Regions from separate parts of the Homo sapiens genome. Here region 1 is reported to be linked to region 2. Evidence: microRNA targets listed by miRTarBase, many of them from high-throughput screens and not tested one by one. Region 2 holds a microRNA gene; the other region holds the end of a gene's coding sequence.

The links. The annotated mature microRNA hsa-miR-155-5p reads UUAAUGCUAAUCGUGAUAGGGGUU and lies in region 2 at 5,793-5,816, shown strand. An mRNA with a match to its seed (bases 2 to 7 or 8) in the 3' UTR can be bound and repressed. Matches are read on the target gene's strand: a 7mer-m8 pairs with bases 2 to 8, a 7mer-A1 pairs with bases 2 to 7 and ends in A, and an 8mer does both.
Region 1: miRTarBase lists ENTPD1 as a target of hsa-miR-155-5p. Seed matches in the 3' UTR shown: 7mer-m8 at 5,957-5,963 and 8mer at 2,242-2,249.

Annotation. Positions count from the first base shown.
Region 1 is chr10:95,866,012-95,873,464 of GRCh38, reverse strand. ENTPD1 (ectonucleoside triphosphate diphosphohydrolase 1) reads right to left here. Exons shown (of 10, transcript NM_001776.6): 10 at 1-7,288. The coding sequence ends at 7,082. All of the region lies in intron 3 of ENTPD1-AS1 (ENTPD1 antisense RNA 1), which reads left to right. Among named protein-coding and RNA genes, the nearest start is that of CC2D2B, 38 kb to the left of the region's middle.
Region 2 is chr21:25,568,191-25,576,215 of GRCh38, forward strand. MIR155 (microRNA 155) reads left to right here and starts at 5,790; the gene lies at 5,790-5,854. It overlaps MIR155HG (MIR155 host gene), which reads left to right. Exons shown (of 3, transcript NR_001458.3): 2 at 1,647-1,731; 3 at 5,703-6,978. RefSeq lists silencers at 1,025-1,074, 5,734-5,913 and enhancers at 7,465-7,614, 8,007-8,025.

The DNA of each region.
Region 1 (7,453 bases), not on the chromosome of region 2:
AGCTGGAAGAAATCCCTCTTAAGCACTCCAGGCCTTCACTGAGTATGAGGTGCTGGTCTCCAAAGGCAGAGGGCAAGGCAAGGCAGAGAGGGATCTCCTGGGGCACAGACAACTGACAAAAGAAACACTTGGATTGTTGTATAAGAGGAGTGAGCTTTGTAAATACCACGTTAGCTGGCCTGCTGTGGAACAGAATGCCTGTGAATGACAGTAGTCAGGTAGTGGATGAACACTGATCTGAGAGCCTGTAAAAGAAACTCTTTGGAATGATAATGTCATCTAGACCTTTGATACGCAAAGTGTGATTCCTGGACAGATGTATTGGCTTTACCTGGCAGCTTGTTGGAAATGTAAAACCTCAGGCCTCACCCCAGACCTACTGAATTATTTATATTAATTAAAATTAAATAATTTTTATTTCAACAAAATCCCTGGGTAATTTGTATGTACATTAAATTTTGAGATGCATGATCTTTTAAGGTTCATTCTAATCCTTAAAATTCTGTTTTAATAATGTGTACAATGAAGTGCTGCATGGCAAACTACACAGAAACTAAAGGCATGTTCCAAAAAGGAAAAGTTCCATGTGGCTAGGGGAATAAAAGCTTCATCAGGGAACCAGGAGTTGGGCTGGTTCTTAAAACCTGGAGAAAGAAGATGGTTACATCAAGAGATAAATAGAGTGAAGCAGAACTAGTGGTGCGGACCAGCTCGCCAGCAACAGAAGGGTTTGTAGTCGGCCTGGCAGTGGACAGGGAGGTTGGCTAGAACTATTACCTTAGGTCCGTGATAATATCCCTGAATCCAACTTTTCAGAAAGAAATAGGTAACATATTTTTCACCAGGAAGCTTCACCCAGACACTGAACAGAATGGTCTCAGTGCACTAATGGAGGCTCAGTTAAAGGGTTGTGGTAGCACAAGGAAGAGACATTCTGACTTGGAAATTTGGAGAAGGCTTCACAAATGAAGGGGCATTTGAAATGAGCTTTGAAGGTGCAAGAGTATTCCAAGTTGAGAAGACAACCTGAGTGGTGTTGGGTGAACAGTCATTCTACCTGGCTGTAGTGTAGTATAGTGTAGTGTAGTGTAGGAAACATCAGAGGAGTGGAGTGGGATATGAGCCTGGAGAGAGCTGGCGGCCATGGATCATTGAAAGCCTTGAATGTCTGATGGGGAGGTTGACTTTATTTTGTAGGCAATGGAAAGCCACCAGTGGTTTTAGTTGAGCAGCAATGAAATTAAGCCTGTGCTTTGCAAAGATTAATCTAGCAGCAACAGATTGGAAGCAACACCACCATTCCTGGTATCAGTCCAGGTAAAATATATTACAGCTCTTTACTGGAGCAATAACAGTAATATTAGAAGGAGAAATAAAAAAGAAAAATATTGCACAGGCAGAATGGGGAGGTCCCAGTGATGGAGCTGATCTTGGTTCATTGAGGCAGGGGTGGCATTAATCATGTAAAACACAGGAGGAGGAACTGGGTTAGGAGTAATGGTAGAGTTCAGTTTAGGTAATTGCAAATACACACTATTCCCTGACTAGCTCCCAAGACTTTTTCTTCCCTCTCTTCTTAGAACTTCATTAGAAGAGGTGATGTTATTTCTTAGATGAGAGTATCTTACTTACCATTGACTAATACATGTTCTCTGATGAACTTTGCTATTCAACATACATGCAAAGGGGTTATAAAAACAAGTCAACTCTAGTGCTGATGAGGGTGATCATCATCACTGATCATGGTGTCAGTTGATTATAGTGTCAATTTATAACTTAATTTATGTAAAATAGAGCAATGCAAAAGACATAGCAATCTTCACTTCAAATGAAGAGTCTTGAATGCCACTTTTCTAAAGAGAAGGCTCATGGAGGCACCTCCTCACTATTGAAAAATCCATTATACCTGTGATAAAACTGATTGTGTTCAGTTGTATTAGATTTGTATGCAAATAAAAAGTTGGGTAATTAGCTATACATTGTCCTAAACGTATAAAATAAGAAAAATACATAGATGTATGGTTTCCTAGGACATCTACCAGTTTAGAATGCGAGGCTAATGTGGGAGCTGCCACAGCATCCTGATTAAGGCTATGGAAAGAAGTTGCAGACTGATGATGTCTTAGAAGTAATGACATTTTTTAAAGATAATATTTCTTTGGTGAGATAAACAGATTATATTTTACAGTAAACACATTTTATATTTCAGTTAATAAGACATTGTATATTAAATAATCGCATTTAATGCTTTACTTTTTTCCTGTGTTAAAATTAATCACTCATGGCCTTGGCCATATGACTTTGCCATTCCTCCCACTGTTTATCTGACTTGTTTATATTTTATTGAGCTTGCTCATATGACTTACAATAGCCTGTGACAGAAGTGACAGGAGACCCCATCCTGACCAAGACCTTAAGAGGCATCCTAGTTTCCTCTCACTTTCACGAGCCTCTGCGGGGTTCATCATGAGAACATATCCCTAGAAACCACTGGACAAGGAGAACAAGAGGTATATGGAATAGGTCTGATCCACCCTTACCACCTGAAGTAGAGCTGCCCAGCTGGCTTGCAGACTCACAAACATGAAAATCAATGTTTACTGCAGCAATTCATGAAACTTTGAGGCTGTTATAAAAAGTAAAGGACCTAATACAAATGGAAAGAAACATGGTTAGTAAGCAAAGCTAGTTATGAGCAGCTGTCATGTTCTAACAGTTGGAATTTGAATCAGAGCAACTATTGGTATTTGAATCAGAGAGGGGCCAGACCAGTTTGGGTGAAACTCAGTTCATCTTTTAAACTGACAATAAAGGGAATATATTTTCATAGTAATTTTATCATTATGTGGCAAACTTTGTTCTGTGAGCTATTAAAATATTCATCTTGGCCAGGTGCAGTGGCTTACGCCTGTAATCTCAACACTTTGGGAGGCCAAGGCAGGAGGATTGCTTGAGGGCAGGAGTTCGAGACCAGCCTGGACAACATAGGAAAACCCTGTCTCTACAGAAAAAAAAATAGCTAGACATGGTGGTGCACACCTGTAGTCCTAGCTACTTAGGTGCACACCTGTAGCCTTGCTTGAGCTTGGGAGGTCGAGGCTGCAGTGAGCCATGATCATGCCACTGCATTCCAGCCTGGGCAACAGAGCAAGACTAGCTCCAAAAAAAAAATCATCTTTATTTTAATATTCAAATTTACATTTTGAGTATGGAATGTAAGCATCAAGAATTAATCTTTAAATCCAGATGAAACTTTCCCAAGGTCTCTTGTCATGCATCTTGGACTGAATAACAGGCATCCCTGCCTTCACATCTTCATGGGAAGGCAACAAAACCTGAGGAATACAACCTAGGATCTCAAAAGCTTTTTTAGGAATAATGTCATATATAATAAATAATAGCAAGAATGTTACAGCATCTATAGCTCTTTAAACTACCTCCCAAGGGAAAGACAATGAGGGCTTAGTTCCTGTGTCTTTTAAACTTTAACTTTACGTGTATTTTTTTGGACATGTGCTGTCCAGTATGGTAGCTACAAGCCACATGTGAGGTGAACACACAGCTAGTCCTAATTAAGATGTGCTGTAAATGTAATAGACACAAAATATTTTGAAAATTTAGTATGAGAAAAATATTAACAATTTTTATATTGATTCCTTGATAGTATTTTGGATTTAGTTGCTTTCTGAAAACTCTCCTGTGTTACCCAGTTTGAGTGTACCATACCATCCATCTCTTGCAGGGACCTTGACTGATACAACATTAAAATGAAGTGTAATTTTAAAAAATTTTATTTACATATTTCTTATTAAGAATTGGATGAATTGAAACTTCTTTATTTTCTTTCTCTTTCTTGTCACACAGAAAGCCTGATTAAGTAGCATTATTCTTTTGTCTACAGAAGTAACCACTTCTGGCCAGGCATGGTGGCTCACTCCTGTAATCCCAGCACTTTGGGAGCCCGAGGCAATAGGATCACCTGAGATTGGGAGTTGGAGACCAGCCTGGCCAACATGGTGAAACCCTGTCTTTACTAAAAATACAAAAATTAGCCGGGTGTGGTGGTGGGCACCTGCAATCCCAGCTACTCGGGAGGCTGAGGCAGGAGAATTGCTTGAACCCAGGAGGCGGAGGTTGCAGTGAGCCGAGATAGCACCACTGCACTCCAGCCTGGGCAATGGAGTGAGACTCTCTCTCAAAAAAAAAAAAAAAAAAAAAAAAAAGTAATGACTTCTGCTGATCTTTTTTCTCCCCTATAGGTTCATAGAAAAAAAACTCCCACCTTATAAAGGAATCTTTAAAAGGTTCCTCATAAAGGAACAGGGTTAGCAGAACCAAGTTTTGAGTCCTGGGTGAAAATCCAGGGGAGAATGGTAATCAGTGATAACCAATGGCCAATCCAATATTAAAATTAGTTAACAGTGACCAATCTTATTTCACCTACCCCACCCAGAGTGGCCCAAAGCAGATTGCTGGATCTGCCTCTAAACCAACCTTCCTGCCAAAATAATTGGGGTTAGGTTGTGTCTGCTGATTGTCTCCATAATTTGAGATTTTAACAAGTTGAGTTTGGCTCCCAAATACCTTAAAGGATTTTTTTTTTGGCATCTCTGGGGAGGGGGAGATTGGACGTAGGCAACCAAACAGGAATGGAATAAGAAAAGATTTGTGTTCTCTGAAGGAGACTTGTGAAGTCTAATTCCAACTTGCTGAGGGAAAGTGTTTAGAAAAGAAAAAGCAATAGGCTTCAACCAGAAGACATGAGTTGGAGTATCTGCTCTGCCATGTAGTAGTTTGTGTGATCCTCATTTGTAAAATGGAAATACTATTTACACCCTTATGGGTTGTTGTGAGGGTCAGAATAGATTGTGTGCATGACAGTGCTTTGTATACGCAGACAGAAGGAAAAAAGCGGCTGTTATTGGCTCAACTTATTTGACCTTTATTTTCATCATCATCGGCCACTATTTGATGTCAATCTACTATGCTGTGAGCAAACATTAAAATTAGGAAGCCAGGGGTATGGGAACCACTGATTAGCATCATATGCCAGATGTGCTTCCATCCAAAGCACATGAACAGAATGATATTAAATTACAAGCCTATCAGGAACAGACCAGCTTTCTGCCTCCCTTTCTATGAATACCAAGTCCCATGAACCTTGTATTCATGTGGAGTTTTAAGTGCATGCTTGGAAGTTATGAGGAGACAGCCTGGTATGTTCGGGAAAGAAAATAAAGGTTAGGTACATGGTAGGCTTTGGCTCAGCCATTTGGGCAAATGACTTAACCTCTCTGAACCTCAGTTTCTGTTTCTATGAAGTGGGAATTGTAATACCTACCTTCTTCAGATTGTTGTGAGGATTAAATGAGAAGATGAATGTAATACCCTTGAGCACACAGCGTGGTACACCACAAATGCTCAACCAACAGCAGCGATGACAGTATAGGCAACTACCACAAGAAAGAATTTGAACATGTCCCAATTCGAATTTTGATTCCTAATCAAGATCTAGTGAATTTAACCTAAGTAGCAGAAAAGAAGATTAAGAGTTCCTTTCCACAGCTTTATTAAGTTTTTATATTCACCTGGATGTTGTCAAAAGTGACTTGATCATTCAAGAGATAGGGGACATTTGGCTTCCGGTTTGTGTGAGAGCTTTTCTTTCCCCATCAGCTCAACAGTCAGTCCCCAGATCTAGAGATGGAGAGCTTGGGACAAGGTCAGAATGAAACATCACCAGTCAATCCTGCTCAACAGGTAACTCTTGCAGCAATCCTTAAGGAAAGGGGTGCAGGGTCTCTTCATGTTTCCATGGTAAGGTCTATAGCTGCTGCTTCATGGAATAAGCAAACAAAGCCCATGTTGTGTGACGGGTGGCAACACTTTCAGACTTGGATCCTGCACATTCTGATGTGTAAATTCCACGATAGGGCAAAAGCATGCCACTCCACACTAATGCTGCCCTCTCACTAAATTAAACCTTGGAAAAATAAGATGTGGCTTGGCTTTAAAACTCAGTGAACTATCTTTATGGTACAGTTGGTTTCCATAGCTGTAAACACAAAAGATCTATGGTTTCTGCCTACCCAGGATAGTCTTGTCTCTAGACAATGTATTGATGATGCAAATGTTCTGGAACTAAATAGTGGTGATGGTGGCACAACACTGTGAATGTACTAAATGTCACTGATTTGTACGTATTTAATATGAATTAAATGTTAAAATGGTGAATTATATTTATGTATATTTTACCATAATAAAAATATGCATTGGAAGATGCATTTTTTGTGACCCTGAGTTGTAACTGTATTTTTATTTGTGACATGTATATACCACCTACCTCATAGTAAGCCCTGATGTTTGAATGCATATATTTACATCTGCTTTTTGCAAATCTCAGGTCTGAGTGTTCCACTCTGTAGCATTTGGGTATCACCTAGGAATATGTGATTTATTGACATACCTGCTTTGGGTGGGATTGAGAACTGTATTGACTGCATGAGCACATATATTTCCTTATAAAACTCTTTGGCTTTAGCACATATTTGCCTACTGTAGAAAATTCTCCTACCCACAGAGCAGGCTGGGAATGGAATGTGTGTCTGCCTTCTCCAAAGGCATCATATGGCTTTCTTAATGGATGGCAAACAGGAGAGAGAAAGGGGTTCTTAAAGAGTACAACTGAACCAGTTCCTGAGATTCTTCTTTCAGCCAGCTCAGCCTCCTATCACAGGACTCAAGACTCTCAGTTCTTCTAGACAAAGTCAATATTGTTCTTTTATAAAGCAAAGATTATGAAAGGTGTCAGGTCTTTAAAACCTATACAAGCACAAAGTACAAAGGAGAAAGGTGTAGCTGGGAAAAACTCATGAAAGAGACAGTATCTGCCGAAGTCCTTGAGGCAAAGGATATTGAATACCTCCAAAAGAAAGGCTTCAGTAAAAGCCAAGGAAGCTTCACACTCGTCAAGACTGGCCCTGGCAGACAGGGAAGGATGGCCTTGAACACTGCGATGGAGGAAAATGCTCCCTGGACGATTTTTTTCCTCACTCCAGCCAGCATATTTCAGCTGCTTTTGCTATACCATATCTTTCCAGAAATATGAAGGCTTGTGAAAGATAAGCAAGCCTATGATGGCCACTGTGAAAAGGACCAGGGAGAATAGAACCATGAGGAAGACATAGGTGGAGTGGGAGAGAGGTGTGGACAATGGTTGCTCAGCTGGGATCATGTTGGTCAGGTTCAGCATGTAGCCCAAAGTCCAGCCGGCGTCGCTGCCCTGGATCTGCAAACAGTGGGGAAAGTCTGTTTGTGGTTGGAGGAGTTAGAAGAGTTATCACCTAGGGCTTAGAATTATTGGATCATGCATTGGAAGAGTTCAAACAATATAAATCACTGGCTGGGCACAGTGGCTCATGCCTGTAATCTCAGCACTTTGGGAGGCCAAGGA
Region 2 (8,025 bases):
CAAATTATAAATTTAAAAAAGTATTAAAATTCTCTTATGGAAATATATTAAGAAGTTTGTTAGGCAAATGGAAAACGTTTTGTGGAAACAAGAAATAAGAAAGAATGGCCATCACTTAAAGCAACAGAATGTATCTCTCCCACTAGCTCTCCCCTCCCTACCCACAGCTTTATTCACATTTGTTCTATAACATTTCAGCACAGTTCAGACCTTCCGCTGAGCCAGTGTGAGGTCAGGGTGTTGAGGAAGCGAGTCCCTGCAGTCAGACTCCAGCTGGCTGTCGTCCTGCTTCTGCTTATTCCACAGAATGAGTCTGGTGGGGGAGAGGAAATTCCTAACCTGTTTTTTTTTACACATCTTCATCAGAAAAGCGAAAGCACTAATTACTGTCCATAATAAAACTACTGGGAAGGTTACTTAGCTTGTAAGTAAGTTCCACAAAGCCATTTCAGTAAAAACTTCCTGGTTCTAAAATTGGGAAAAGCAGGATAATCCTCTAAGGCTGACATTCTTTCTCTTTTGTGCATTTACAACTAAACGGTCACTGATACACATTTCCACAGTGACCCTGCAATATCCACATTGGCTTTCTTCTAAGACACTTCAAAAATACATCACACCTTTATGTGTTAAATATCACTATTGGCATATATCTTTAAAAACATTTATTTTCTTAATTCTCAAAATACAGAAAAGAATGTTATGCTATTGTGTGCACAAACTGCTATTTTCAATAAGGAGCTCTTAATTTAGAAAGTTGCTATTTTTCAATAAAGAGCTCTCAATTAGAAAATATCAAGAAGTGATGTTAAGTTTTTATGGAAATAAATAAAGTATCATGACATGAAAAGTTTATAATTTTTCCCCCAGCAATGGCTTACTCAGGGAATTTTTCTTATATGTAAAGTTAATGATCTGAAAAGTGGTAATCTTATCATTCACCAAGATTTCAGGATATAAGTTATTCCTACAGAACAATCCATTTTTACCTTTAAAGATGAGTTTGTGTACTTCAGAAGATGTGACGCCAGTTGGCCACCATCTCAATCAGTAGTAAGTCACACCATCAATCCCTTGTTAATGATGGAACTCATGTGAAGTCAAGAGGAAACATAATACTCTTTACCTCATTCCCTGGTAGCAGAGAAGTTGACTCATCTTTAATGTCAGTTATTGAGATGTAACACAGAATCATATTCTACAGAAAATATGTGATAAACTTTACACAAATGAATACACTTTAGAAAGGCAGTCATTTGGATTTTCTTTTTGTCAGAGAACATTGCAAGTCTTCCTGAAGAATTTCTGAGAAATTAAACACTTTATATGACATTTTACAGCATGTAGAGAGGTTGAAACTCAGAGAACTAAAACTCAGATGATAGTCTAAATACTTAATTTGTTGCTGCTTTATGCTGGACATGAAAAGTGTGAGCTTAAATTATAAATAAAAAACTATTGAGCTATCAAACTATTTGGGGTACATCCTTATCTTTCCTCTAAATTACTCTTTATTCCCATTAAAATCCACCTATCCCGGGTCCTCTCTCCTCAGCCCTTCACCTCTGCTTTCAAAGATGACTAACTAACCTAATAAACACATCTAAGGTGATGTGTCAACTTCAACCCCAACCCTTTTTCCCCAGATAACTTGTCTGCATTTCAAGAACAACCTACCAGAGACCTTACCTGTCACCTTGGCTCTCCCACCCAATGGAGATGGCTCTAATGGTAAGGAATTCTATCTTAAGTAAAAGGGAAGGGAAACACGCTGACAGATGCAGTTTTTATAAAGGCAGGTCATTGGGGCACCAAGTTGGCAGCCGCTTTCAACTTTTGATTCTACCTCAAAAGGTAACCAAGAAATCGTTGTTATTCTAAAGATTATGACAAGTCCAAAGTTTCACAGAATCCTGATTTTTATACACTTGCATTAATCACTGCTTACTTCCATGATGTAAACCAAAACTGCAGCGGCAGAATATAGAGAATCAGAATAAATTCTGATAGAAAAGGCAGATACTGTTTCCACATATACAAGTATATGCTAATTGCTTTTAGCAAACTGATCCAAATAGGAATCAACATTATTCCATCTTAATGATTATGTTTTTGATTGGTACACATAAATGTTAAAGTGGGAAAATATGCAGAGAAAGTTACCTAAACTAAATCACTTTAATTTTCAACAACATAATTACATTCCATTTCACCTACTAAAATGGCTTTGGACCTAGAATTTGTATTGCTACATCAATATAAGATGACTTTCAGTAAAAATAGATGTACAGTTGATTTGTAACAACAAATTAATAGTTTTAAATTATTTGTATATTTCAAGGTAAATAAAATTAGAGCTATCCCACAATCGCTTTGGTTATGAAATTCGACCACTGTAACTTTTTTTAAAGAAAACTTTATGGTGTGCAGTTCCTTTGGTATGCAAATATTAAATGGTTGGTGCTGAGAATAAGCAGCAATATAGAAATATATATAATTGTAGAAGAATATAACCTATGATTTAGACATAAAATGAGATCCTTACAAGATAAAGAGTTATGGAGATGGATGATAATGATAGTTGTAGAACATTATGACTAAGTGTTTAATATAGCGGACCTGTACACTTAAAAATGGTGAAGATGTTAAACTTACATTATGTTTACATTACATATTTCACCACAATAAAAAATTTTTGAAGGAAAACCAGAACTTTAATGACAAACTTAGGACATATTATGCTCTGAATATATAGTTTTGATAACGTCTTTCCTGGCAAATCAACAAGGTAAGAATAAAAGGATATTCTGAAATCTTTTTTTTTCTTTGGAGACAGAGTCTTGCTCTGTTGCCCAGGCTGGAGTGCAGTGGCACAATCTCGGCTCACTACTACCTTCTGCCTCCCAGGTTCAAGTGATCCTCCTGCCTCAGCCTCCTGAGTAGCTGGGATTATAGGCGTGCGCCACCACGCCTAGCTAATTTTTTTGTATTTTTAGTAGAGACGGGGTTTTACCATGTTGGTCACGCTGGTCTCAAACTCCTGACCTCATGATCCGCCCACCTCGGCCTCCCAAAATGCTAGGATTACAGGCATGAGACACCACACCCAGCCAGATATTCTTAAATCTTATGCTCACACTCCACCCCCCCCAAAAAAATTGTCCTTCAGGAAAGCATAATTTAAGGAAAAATTTCCCAAAGTGCCACCTTCAGCTTCATTCTTAGCACCAGAGGAAGAATTGCCTGTCATATAATGAAAGATCCTTGGTGTTATCATTAATCTAGTATACATAGTGCTTCCTCTTGGTAGATTTTTACCTACTGTGAGAAGGAATGATTTTGATACTCAGACAGTGTGTAGTAATTTGTTAAGAACATTTAACTTGGAACCTATGCTACACAGTAAAACTTATACTGACAATGGATATTTCATGTGGTAGGCCTAAGAAGTATTGTGGAGTGAGGGGACTGGAAGTATATCTGCAGAACTACCTAGTCAAAGACCCCAGTCTAATTTCTAATATATAATTCATATAAATTACTCTTGCATTGCTATACATTAAACATTATGCTTGTCACATTCTTACTTGGTTAGCACTGTCACTACTGATTGTCAGGCCTATAATTGTGTATAATTCTTCCCCTGCCACTTTACCAGCTGGTGGCCACACCGATTCCAGAAAGAACTACTTTATTTCTTATTACCTCATGAAAGCACCCTCTGCCCAGTGCCTTGGCTAATAGACTGGCCTTTGTTGTCTATGACCACTAATTCCCACTCAGGCATATAGCAATTCTGTTGTTGGTTGCTTAGCCCAGTCAAAAACACTGGAAGTGGACATAGACTCCACACTGATGAATGAATGACCTTCTAGTCATTCTAATGTCCTTAAAAGTCTACTATTTTTAAATTGTAGAATATATATATATATATATATATTTTTTTTTTTTTCTGGGATATTTCTCCTTTCTTCTGTTCATTAATGTTTTTCATCTATCATTGTGTTTTAAATATGACCTAAGGTTCTATAGTATATTTAGACAAACTTCTCATTTCTCTGCAGTGTTCGGAATTCATCATGCCTGTATGACAAGGTTGTGTTTGAGAACAAAAGGGGACCTGTGTGACATGTTTTATTTCAATATACATTTAGAGTTTGAACAAATAAAAAAAGCTATTAGAATTTTTAATATATATAACACATTATCAAAAACACTGTCACTTTTCTGAGTGCTCTAATCAGGCAATTCGTATGTATATTTAAAAAGAGGGAAAAAGCTAATTAGTATACTAAATATATTTATTTTAATACCTGTGCTCATATGTTATCTTTAAAGAACAGGAATAAAATTTATGGGTAGAATAGTATGCCAGCAATTTACCTTCAATACAAATTAAACACATCTTTTAAGAAAAGGGCGAGTTATATTGGCTGGGGTGGCACTAACACTACATTATTAATATGTATTTATTGAGCATTTACTGTGTCCAGGACCCTGTAAGGGGGAAAAAAAGTCCTTGTTTTTACAATCTTTATTGACTGAAATTCTGTAAAATGAATTGAATTCCTGAAGTGACATCATTTAACCCAAATTTTTTCATCATCAACTAATTCATCTCAGAAAACAGTAAAGTTTAAAAAAAAATACTATCAGTAAGAATAATATATTTCCTTGGTTTGGAAATTTCCAAACCACGATATTCTGCCCTGTCAAAATATATTCACTGGGGAATTTTTTACTTCATACGTTTCTTTTGAACTTAGTCACATTTTTATATCTAGCTGGTTTCATTATTAAATAAAAGAAAAGGTGATTCCCCTCTTGTACTGCAGGAGACCACATACTTGAATGATACTCTAACTTCTAGGTTCTGTTATAGTAACACTGAAATCAGAAACCTGTGGGAGAAATGTCACTTTATCTGAGAGAGTAAAATCAGACTCTAAAAGGAAGTAGCAAATTCATCTTGTTCTTTTTTTTAATCAACCCTCTGCCTAAGACAAGTAGTTTGAAACACAGAGGACTCTTTAAGTCATACTTCCTTTATGTAGTCAAAACCAAAGCCACTGGGTAGTGCTTTCCCCAAAGGAATCTCTAAATAGTAGACGGGGACATTTTCAGATAGATTCGTTTGTAGGCAAACCTCCATTGCTTGTATCACATTTCCTGAAAGAATAAAGGTAAAACTTCAACTATGTATTACAGAAAGAAAAATTCAGCCTGAACCCTACCCTTATAAAACAGGTTAATTGGGTTTTAATTTTCATAAATCATAAAGGACTATTTTGAACATTTGGGCCTTTAATTGTCTAGCTCCTAGATGAAGTACAAATCAGAAAAAAAAAAAACTGTACTGTGTCAGAATGCAAGCTTTCCTCTTTGCATTTTGGCATTTGAAAACTCCGAAGAGCGGTTTTTGTTTTTTATTTAAAGAAGATGATACATATGTGTACCCGATTCAAAACTAGAGAATAGAATTTAAAACATAATTTTCAAAGTCTTCAAATATGCCTAAAGGTAACAATGTCATCTTTTAATTGCCAATTTCTCTACCACTTTCAAAAAATTACTTCCAAGGATTTAATGAGCTCCTTCCTTTCAACAGAAAATGGACTATTTTCCTTTCAGATTTACTATATGCTGTCACTCCAGCTTTATAACCGCATGTGCATACACAAACATTTCTTTCTCTCTTGCAGGTGGCACAAACCAGGAAGGGGAAATCTGTGGTTTAAATTCTTTATGCCTCATCCTCTGAGTGCTGAAGGCTTGCTGTAGGCTGTATGCTGTTAATGCTAATCGTGATAGGGGTTTTTGCCTCCAACTGACTCCTACATATTAGCATTAACAGTGTATGATGCCTGTTACTAGCATTCACATGGAACAAATTGCTGCCGTGGGAGGATGACAAAGAAGCATGAGTCACCCTGCTGGATAAACTTAGACTTCAGGCTTTATCATTTTTCAATCTGTTAATCATAATCTGGTCACTGGGATGTTCAACCTTAAACTAAGTTTTGAAAGTAAGGTTATTTAAAAGATTTATCAGTAGTATCCTAAATGCAAACATTTTCATTTAAATGTCAAGCCCATGTTTGTTTTTATCATTAACAGAAAATATATTCATGTCATTCTTAATTGCAGGTTTTGGCTTGTTCATTATAATGTTCATAAACACCTTTGATTCAACTGTTAGAAATGTGGGCTAAACACAAATTTCTATAATATTTTTGTAGTTAAAAATTAGAAGGACTACTAACCTCCAGTTATATCATGGATTGTCTGGCAACGTTTTTTAAAAGATTTAGAAACTGGTACTTTCCCCCAGGTAACGATTTTCTGTTCAGGCAACTTCAGTTTAAAATTAATACTTTTATTTGACTCTTAAAGGGAAACTGAAAGGCTATGAAGCTGAATTTTTTTAATGAAATATTTTTAACAGTTAGCAGGGTAAATAACATCTGACAGCTAATGAGATATTTTTTCCATACAAGATAAAAAGATTTAATCAAAAAATTTCATATTTGAAATGAAGTCCCAAATCTAGGTTCAAGTTCAATAGCTTAGCCACATAATACGGTTGTGCGAGCAGAGAATCTACCTTTCCACTTCTAAGCCTGTTTCTTCCTCCATATGGGGATAATACTTTACAAGGTTGTTGTGAGGCTTAGATGAGATAGAGAATTATTCCATAAGATAATCAAGTGCTACATTAATGTTATAGTTAGATTAATCCAAGAACTAGTCACCCTACTTTATTAGAGAAGAGAAAAGCTAATGATTTGATTTGCAGAATATTTAAGGTTTGGATTTCTATGCAGTTTTTCTAAATAACCATCACTTACAAATATGTAACCAAACGTAATTGTTAGTATATTTAATGTAAACTTGTTTTAACAACTCTTCTCAACATTTTGTCCAGGTTATTCACTGTAACCAAATAAATCTCATGAGTCTTTAGTTGATTTAAAATAATTTTTATGGCCCATTTTCTTTTGCAAAGTACAAATTATAATTCCAGAAGCTATCTGCCAAAAAAAGACAATGGAAGAAAATTATGAGGACACTAAAGGGAACATTCCTGACTCCTAGGACACAGTATTCTCATGTAAGAATACCCATTTGGCTTTGCCCCACTTTCTGTTCAAGTTGTATGTGCTGCCAAGACAAATTTCTTCTCCTCACTTTCTGTTCAAGTTGTATGTGCTGCCAACACAAATTTCTTCTCCTAACACCTGGAATGAGCTTGTGGCTCCACGGAGCTCCCATGTAGGTAGAACACATTCAAGAGTGTTTCTTCAGGCCAGGCACAGTGGCTCACGCCTATAATTCCAACACTTTGGGAGGCCAAGGCGGGTGGTTCACTTGAGGTCAGGAGTTCTACACTACCCTGGCCAACATAGTGAAACCTCGTCTCTACTAAAAATACAAAAATTAGCTAGGCATGGTGGTGCGTGCCTGTAATCCCAGATACTCAGGAGGCTGGGGCAGAAGAATCACTTGAACCCAGGAGGTGGAGTTCACAGTGAACGAAGATCGTGCCACTGCCCTCCAGCCTGGGTGACAGAGTGAGACTCCATCTCAAAAAAAAAAAAAAGTGTCTGTTCAATTCATTTTATCTGCCACTGTATATCTACAAGAGGACTCCTTGCTTTGAGTCCCAGTTCTTCAAAATCCTGCTTGCTGCCTAAAGACACAAAGTCATAGAACATTAGGACTGGAATAAACTATTGTAGTATAACCTTCCTGCTGTTACAATAAAAAGCTATAAACATTACAAAGGCACTTAAAGAAAAGCTGTGCTGGGAAATGCCTTATTTGAAGAGCATTTGGGTACACTCACATGAAGCTTTGGAAAGTTACTTAATCTTCCTCTAAGCCTCAATTTCTTCATCAATAAAATGATGAATATATTTCATATTTCATAAGATGTAGGCTTAAATGAAATCATGCATGTGAAAAGCACAATGTCTATTATGCATTAAGTGTTAAACACAAACTTTCAAACTTTTACATTTCAGT